2 linked regions of the Homo sapiens genome follow. The protein of the gene in region 1 interacts with the protein of each later gene in a pairwise test. Each region holds a gene or a part of one and is shown on either strand. Other genes may lie near its edges. The genes, in order: ANXA8L1 and RDH12.

The links.
Region 2: the proteins of ANXA8L1 (region 1) and RDH12 interact in a two-hybrid assay, tested with the Homo sapiens proteins (one large-scale study listed by BioGRID).

Annotation. Positions count from the first base shown.
Region 1 is NC_000010.11:46,385,467-46,389,239, reverse strand, and holds part of ANXA8L1 (annexin A8-like protein 1), read right to left. Parts: coding exon 3,767-3,773; intron 3,529-3,766; coding exon 3,433-3,528; intron 1,655-3,432; coding exon 1,596-1,654; intron 848-1,595; coding exon 725-847; intron 1-724.
Region 2 is NC_000014.9:67,729,386-67,732,885, forward strand, and holds part of RDH12 (retinol dehydrogenase 12), read left to right. Parts: exon of another isoform or gene 1-356; coding exon of another isoform or gene 357-434; intron 435-3,500. UniProt on the Homo sapiens protein: Retinoids dehydrogenase/reductase with a clear preference for NADP. Displays high activity towards 9-cis, 11-cis and all-trans-retinal. Shows very weak activity towards 13-cis-retinol.

The sequences.
Region 1 (3,773 bases):
TGCCATCTTGAAACATCTGGAAACAGAAATGTCTTTTCCACCTATTGTCAGCTATGTGTTTCTTGAAAAGTGCACTTAACAACGACATTTGCAGAAGAGCTAGAGACTTGACTTAGTAGCCAAAGAAAACTTGGGGATACATTTGTCCTAATGTGACTTCTGCTAATGAAATCATCAAGACCTCAATTTGCAGACACCCCCAGAAGAGCTGTTTCTCCCAATTATCGCAGCGTGATAATCAGTCTGTGTTTTGAAGGCTCCAGAACTTTTGCTAATTGGAATCTGGTTAGATAGTCTATTGGCGCTCATCTGACTTATCTCCTTAGAAGTTGGCCGCCAGGACTACTTAAATCTGGATTTGAGCGGTGGGCCCGATTCCTACCGGACTAGTTCATCTCATTGACTATTCAGAGGTGGCTTCTTCTGCAAGGATTTGGTGTCTTTTCCAAGGAGCAACCATAACTTAAATGTGAAACCAACTTTCTGAGTGGGACACAGGGGAGCCTCTGTGCCCTGGTCTCTGCATCTCCCCTCTGCCCCCCATTCCCCTTGGGATCCAGCCACACTGACCTCTGCTGTTCCCTGCACACACCACATGGTCATGAATGCAAGCACATGGTGCCCACTGGGAAGGGAGGGGCTCACGTAGTGTTGGCCACAGCCTCCAGGTTTCCCTGAATGTCTGGGTTTCAGGCTGGCCTCAGCATTGGGAATGCCTGCTTACCATGATCATGCTGCTGAGGGTCTTGCCGTACATCTTCTTGAAGTGACATTTGATAAGATTTAAGTCAATCTCGCTCCTTGAAACGATGTTTCTTATCAGGGTCCCATCACGCGTCCCTGCTCCCTGGGCAAGACAGCAGCCATCAACAATCCTGCCTCACCTTTCCTGTCCATCTCTGAGTGATGGACGGATCTGTGTGGTTGGGTTCTGGGGCTTTTAGAGGGAGGGAGATGTGGGAAGGAGCCTGTGCTTCAGCCAGGGAAGCATTAGGAGGGAAGCTTTGGTGGCTTAGGGTGTCCACTCCCTTAATTCCTTCTCACCCACTGCCCAGAACTCTTCCTTTATGATGCCAAGTGCTCCAAACTGCAGTATGTTTGGTTTGCCACATCAGATTCTAGACACAAAATACTCACTGCTCCAGGAACAAGACTTCCTACTAGAGCAATGGCAGCAATCAGCTCAGCCAGGAATTTCACAGGCAGGGCCTTCCTGCTCACCTTCATCCCTGACCAGTCTCATGTCAGCTGGGGCCACATGGCCAAGGGAATCGCATGCCCTCTCTCATTTCCTGGGCAGAAGTGGCCAGAGGGCTTGGGTTTCGGGTGTGGAACTAACTTCAGGGGATATCAGCAACCATCAATCAGAGAAAACGGGCAATGGTTTTAGTTTCAGGGAATTATTCACCTCTGGAGATGCAGCGTCCCTTTCCCAGACTCAATTTCACCTCCGAGAACTAAAACCTTTCTGATCCACGACAGGTTTGGGTAAGATAACTCCCCCGTGTGGAGGATCGTGGTGGCTTTGAGCTCCTTGGCTTTGCACTTGGTGCTATGTAGGGTGAGCGTCAGGAAGAAGAAGACAGGACAGTTACCTTCATGGCATAGTAGAGTCTCTCTGCAAAGTAGCTGTGGAGGTTTTGGGTGCATTTCACTGGCAAACAAGAAAGCTGTGTTAATGTCTGGAGCTGGTAGGTGGCACTGCCTACAACTTTATGTCTTGCCTTAGGTCTTAAGAGTCAGTGTTGTGCAAGGCTTGGCATATTTCTTTGTTCCGTGCCTTTCCCAATGTGAGAGGCTTTGTGTCAGGTGGCGTGGGACAGGGAAGGTAGCCCGGGGCACTGGGCACAGCTCCAAAGGCCCAAGCAGGCAGGCAAAAGGGTAAGATGTGAAATGCACCAGACTGTGGGGCTCGTCTGAAGACACCAGCTCAAGCCCATCCAAGGGCAGCTCAGACTCAGGACAGGCCCTGGGCTCTCAACCCAGAGACACCTCCACCAAAAATCCAGCCTCTCAGCTCCACAGAAGCACCATGGGATGGTGGCTGCTGGCCTCAGAGTGCCCTCTCTCTCACACTTATCAGCAGAAACCCTGCATTTTGAATTCCCATGTGACAAGTGGAGTTTGGCCCCACAGGACTAAGGCACCTGGGGGCGTCTGGTCCAGAGACTGGGCCCATGCTTGCTCCCATGGGTACTGCTCAGAGACTTGGCATCTGGGTGGGGAAGGTTGGCATTTTCACTTAGGGCTGCAGAAGGAGCATGGGCTTTGAGTGAGGTAGGCATGTGTTCACTTCCTGCCTTGATGGTGCAGTATGGCTTCATTACTCAACCTCCCTGACTCATCTGGGAAGTGAGACTGATGCGAGGCTTCAAGGTGAAGTGAATAGGAAGGCCCAGCATGACGGAGCACTGCATGGCTTCACTATTCCCTGCTGGCAGACTTCATTCTTGGTGGGTTCAGGCCAGATCCAGGGGTGGAAGCTGAGATTGGAGCAGGGGTGTGATTAGATGTCCTGACATAGACCGGATTGTATCACAGCATCCAAGGCCAGCTGGGGTGTCTCAGATGGCCCTGTCCACCCAGAGAGGCTAGGAAACAGCAGGGAGCCTGCTGGCTGCTGGCTTTGCACGGAGGCAGCCTGGTGTGGAGGTGAGAGCTGCAGGCCAGGAGTCCGGACCTGGGCTCTGTGTGTAAGTGGGAGAAGAGACGTCCCTCTGCCCTGGGCCTCAGCTCTTTACTCTGCAGTGACTCTTCCCATTGTGATCTCAGCCCTGGAACCCATGAGAGCTCTGGAGTGGGTCCTCCTGAGTGGCCCTGACTTCCTGCTGTGGGGAAGATCCCCAGTGTTTCTCAGCATCAGACCATCCGTCACTCAGTTTGGACTCAAGCCACACATCACTGTTTCTTCAACTGGCAATGAAGGCAGGGGCCAGGCCCCTGGTTCATGTCCAGAAAGATGACTTTGTGCTGGCCAGGGCTTCACAACCACAGCCAGAGTGCTCCCTGCATGGCTGCCATGAGTACACACAGGGTTGGGGCTGGCATAATCACTGGCGTATGCATTTGTGTGCGCACACACACACACTGTCTGTCTCACACACACACACTCACATTCCACCCACAGTCATGCACACACACCCTCAGGCACACACACTCTCACGCACACACACACTCATGCAGACACACCCACACAGCACTGGGCACCACGTGGGCAGCACAGAGAACAATCTTTGGCAGCACACACTGGGACTCTAGAGGTGGAGCAGTCCCTGGGTGAGGGAGACAGGCAGAGTGTGAGTCGGGGGGACATCCCGTGAAGGTGACACAGGGATTCTTTCTCTTGTGGTCGCATCCCTAGGCCCTTTGTTCTTTGGTGCTGCCCCACGGTGAGCCCTGTGGCCTGAAAAACGTGCAAGTCTGAGCTCTTACCCACAGTGAGCATGGCCTCCTCCAGTGAGCCATGGGTCTCACTCTTGATGCTGTCCTCAATGCTCTTGTTGGCAATTTTCTCATACTCTTCAAACACTGTGGAGAGGGCTCTGCTCAGGGGATGGTCAGACCTCCTCGTGATGCCCCTCAGTGTCTCGGATCAGAGATCGCACATCAATTTGCCGCCCTGACCTCCCACTGGTGGCTGGGGAAACAGTCCTGGGCTCCCTGGCTCTCTCCCTAACTCTAGACTTGACAAGGCAGAAGCACGAGGGAGAGGCTCATGGCCAGGACACCCCTGTGGCCCCGGCCCCAGCCCCTCCCTCCCTGGTACCTCTCAG
Region 2 (3,500 bases), on another chromosome or scaffold:
TGAAGGCAATGCGGTTCTCTCCACCACCTGTGTGCATGGGAGGTGCCGGACTCGCTGGGCTGTTCATCCTGAGAAGCTGAGTTTGTGCCTGATGATGCAATCCAGGTTTGGGTTGGGCCTGCAAACAGAATGCCGTTGCTTTGTTAAGGAAACTTACAGTACAAACTTATGTGTTGGGAAGAGTTGCTTTTCTGGCTTTATTTTATACTCGTGTGCCGCTTTTCCATGAAAACTTTGCAGCTTTCTGAAAGCTTTTAAAGAAGACTGTCGCTGTTGGTTATGCCATGGAGATCTGGATCGTTTTTCTCCTTCTTTAAGCTTTTGGCTCACTTGATTCATGAATTTTTAAATACCAATTAGCACAAAGTGCTAGGGGAACGTCCTCTCTCTTCGGTGTGAACTCTGTCCCTCAATGCTGCCAAGATTGGCACTATCTGTTGAAATATAGAAGTAGAAATTTTAGTGCTGAATCTTATCATGAACTCAATGAGCAACTAGAGTCTGGGAGTAAAGGGAAGCCCAGGGTGAAATCTCTTTCCCATTCCATGACAGAATCCAGCCCTGTCTGCTCTGTTGTCCCGCTTTGTTCAAGGCTTTTCATCAGTGCAGTATTTATTCCGTGAAGCACTGGAAATAGTCTTAGTGTCTGATGAGAGGGGAATGGATAAGTGATAATAGCTAATGTTGCTTGAGTTTTTATAATGTGTTTGGTACTCAGTTCTGAGTGTGTAATGTGTATTAATTCATATAATCATCACAACCCTGCGAGGCAGGTAATATTACCCCAAGTTTTCACATGAAACTGAGGCGCAAGATAATTAAGAAACTTGCTCAAAGTCATATAGCTTATAAGTGGTAGATCTGGGATTTACGCCCTGGCAATCTGGCTCTAGAGCTGTGCCATTCAGTATGGTAGCCACTAGCCACATGTTGCTATTGAGCACTTGAAATATGGCTAGTCCAGATTGAGATGCACTGTAAGTGTACAGTGCATACCAGATTTTTGAAGACATACAGGTTGAGCATCACAAATCTGAAAATTCGGAGTCCGGAATATTTCAGTAAGCATTTCCTTTGAGTTGCATGTTGCTGCTAAAAATGTTTTGGATTTCAGAGTATTTCGGGTTTTAGATTTTTGGGGTTTGAGATGCTCAGCTGGTAAGTACAATGCAAATATTTCATAATTCAAATAAATGTAAAATCCTAAATACTTCTGATCCCAAGCATTTTTTTTTGAGATGGATTTTCACTCTTGTCACTCAGGCTGGAGGGCAATGGCTTGATCTTGGCTCACTGCAACTTCAGCCTCCTGGGTTCAAGCGATTCTCCTGACTCAGCCTCCTGAGTAGCTGGGATTACAGGTGCCCGCCACCACACCTGACTAGTTTTTGTATTTTTAGTCGAGATGGGCTTTCACCATGTTGGCCAGGCTGGTCTTGAACTCCTGACGTCAGTTGATCCACCTGCCTTGGCCTCCTAAAGTGCTGGGATTACAGGCGTGAGCCACCGCGCCCAGCCCCAAGCATTTCTGATAAGGGATGCTCAACCTATAGTATAAAAAAAGAAGTGTAAGTTATCTCATTTTATATTTTTAAATGAGATAAAAGATATCTCATTTTTTATATTGATTGCATGCTAAAATGATTTTGCTATTTGTGGGTTAAATAAAGTACATATTTATTAACTCAATAAATGAATGTGTAATTAAATGTTACTAAATAAATTTCACCAATTTCTTTTTACATTTTAAATGTAGCTGCTAGAAAATTCAAAATGACATATGTGGCTCACAATTGTGTTTCTCATCATATTTCTTTCTTTCTTTTTTTTTTTTTTTTTTTTTTTTGGAGACATAGTCTCACTCTGTTGCCCAGGCTGGAGTGCAATGGCATGATCTTGGCTCACTGCAACCTCCACCTCCTGGGTTCAAGGGATCCTCCTGCCTCAGCCTCCCGAGTAGCTGGGATTACAGGTGCATGCCACGACGCCCAGCTAGTTTTTGTATTTCTAGTAGAGATGGAGTTTTGCCATGTTGACCAGGCTGGTCTTGAACTCCTGACCTCAAGTGATCCGCCCACCTCAGCCTCCCAAAGTGCTGGGATTGCAGGCGTGAGCCACTGCGCCTGGTCTTCCCATCATATTTCTATTGGACAGTTGCTACTCTAGAGTCTGAGTGTTTAACATTGCTGCCTTAAATATGTAATAAAATATACAGTCATTAAATATCATATTTTAATATAATATGTAATTAATATAAAAATGTTAGTGATATAATGTTGTAAGGAAAAAACTGGAATACAAAACTATATGATTTTTTATACATAGAGAACAGTCTGGAGGGATAACCAGCCACTGGGCAGTAGTGGTTACTTCCAGGGAGTTTTAGGGAGAGCCAAGCAGAGTGTGAAGGATGATTTTTATCTTTTTATTCTAGGTGTTTTTTTATTATTTAAAAATTTTGCCAGGTGCAGTGGCTCATGCATGTAATCCCAGCACTTTGGGAGGCTGAGGTGGGTGGATCACTTGAGGTCAGGAGTTGAGACCAGCCTGGCCAACGTGGTGTAACCCCATCTCTACTAAAAATACAAAAAATTAGCTGATCATGTTGGTGGGTGCCTGTAATCCCAGCCACTCAGGAGGCTGAGGCAGGAGAATCACTTGAACCTGGGAGGCGGAGGCTGCAGTAAGCCGAGATCACTCCACTGCACTCCAGCCTGGGCGACAGAATGAGACTCTGTCTCAAAAAAAAAAAAAAAAAAAAAAATTTAAGGCTGGGTGTGGCGGCTCATGCCTGTAGTCCCAGTACTTTGGGAGGCCAAGGCAGGAGGATTGCTTGAGCTCGGGAATTCCATACCAGCCTGGACAACAAAGTGAGACCCCCATCTCTACTAAAAATCAAAAAATTAGCCCAGCATTGTGGTGCATGCCTGTAGTCCCAGCTACTCGGGAGGCTAAGGTGGGAGGATGGCTTCAGCCTGGGAGGTCAAGGCTGCATGATAGTGCCACTGCACTCCAGCCTGGGTGATGAAGTGAGACCCTATCTCAAAAAAAAAAAAAAAATCCTCCTCAAACTAGATACAGTATGATCCCGGTTTTATGTAAGAGAGAAAGAGAGAGAGAGACTATATCTCTATTTATATCCAAACAAAGCAAAAAAAAAAAAAAGACTGTACAGAAAGCAACTAAATGATAGACTTTTCTTTTTTTTGAGACGGAGTTTCGGTCTTGTCGCCCAGGCTGGATTTCAGTGGCGTGATCTCCACTCACTGCAACCTCTGCCTCCTGGGTTCAAGCCATTCTCCTGCATCAGCCTCCCAAGTAGCTGGGATTACGGGTGCCCACCACCACACCCGGCTAATTGTTTTTTGTATTTTTAGTAGAGGCAGGGTTTCGCCTTGTTGGCCAGGCTGCTCTTGAACTCCTGACCTCAGGTGATCCACCCACCTCAGCCTCCCAAAGTCCTGGGATTACAGGTGTGAGCCACCGTGCCCAGCCGTGAT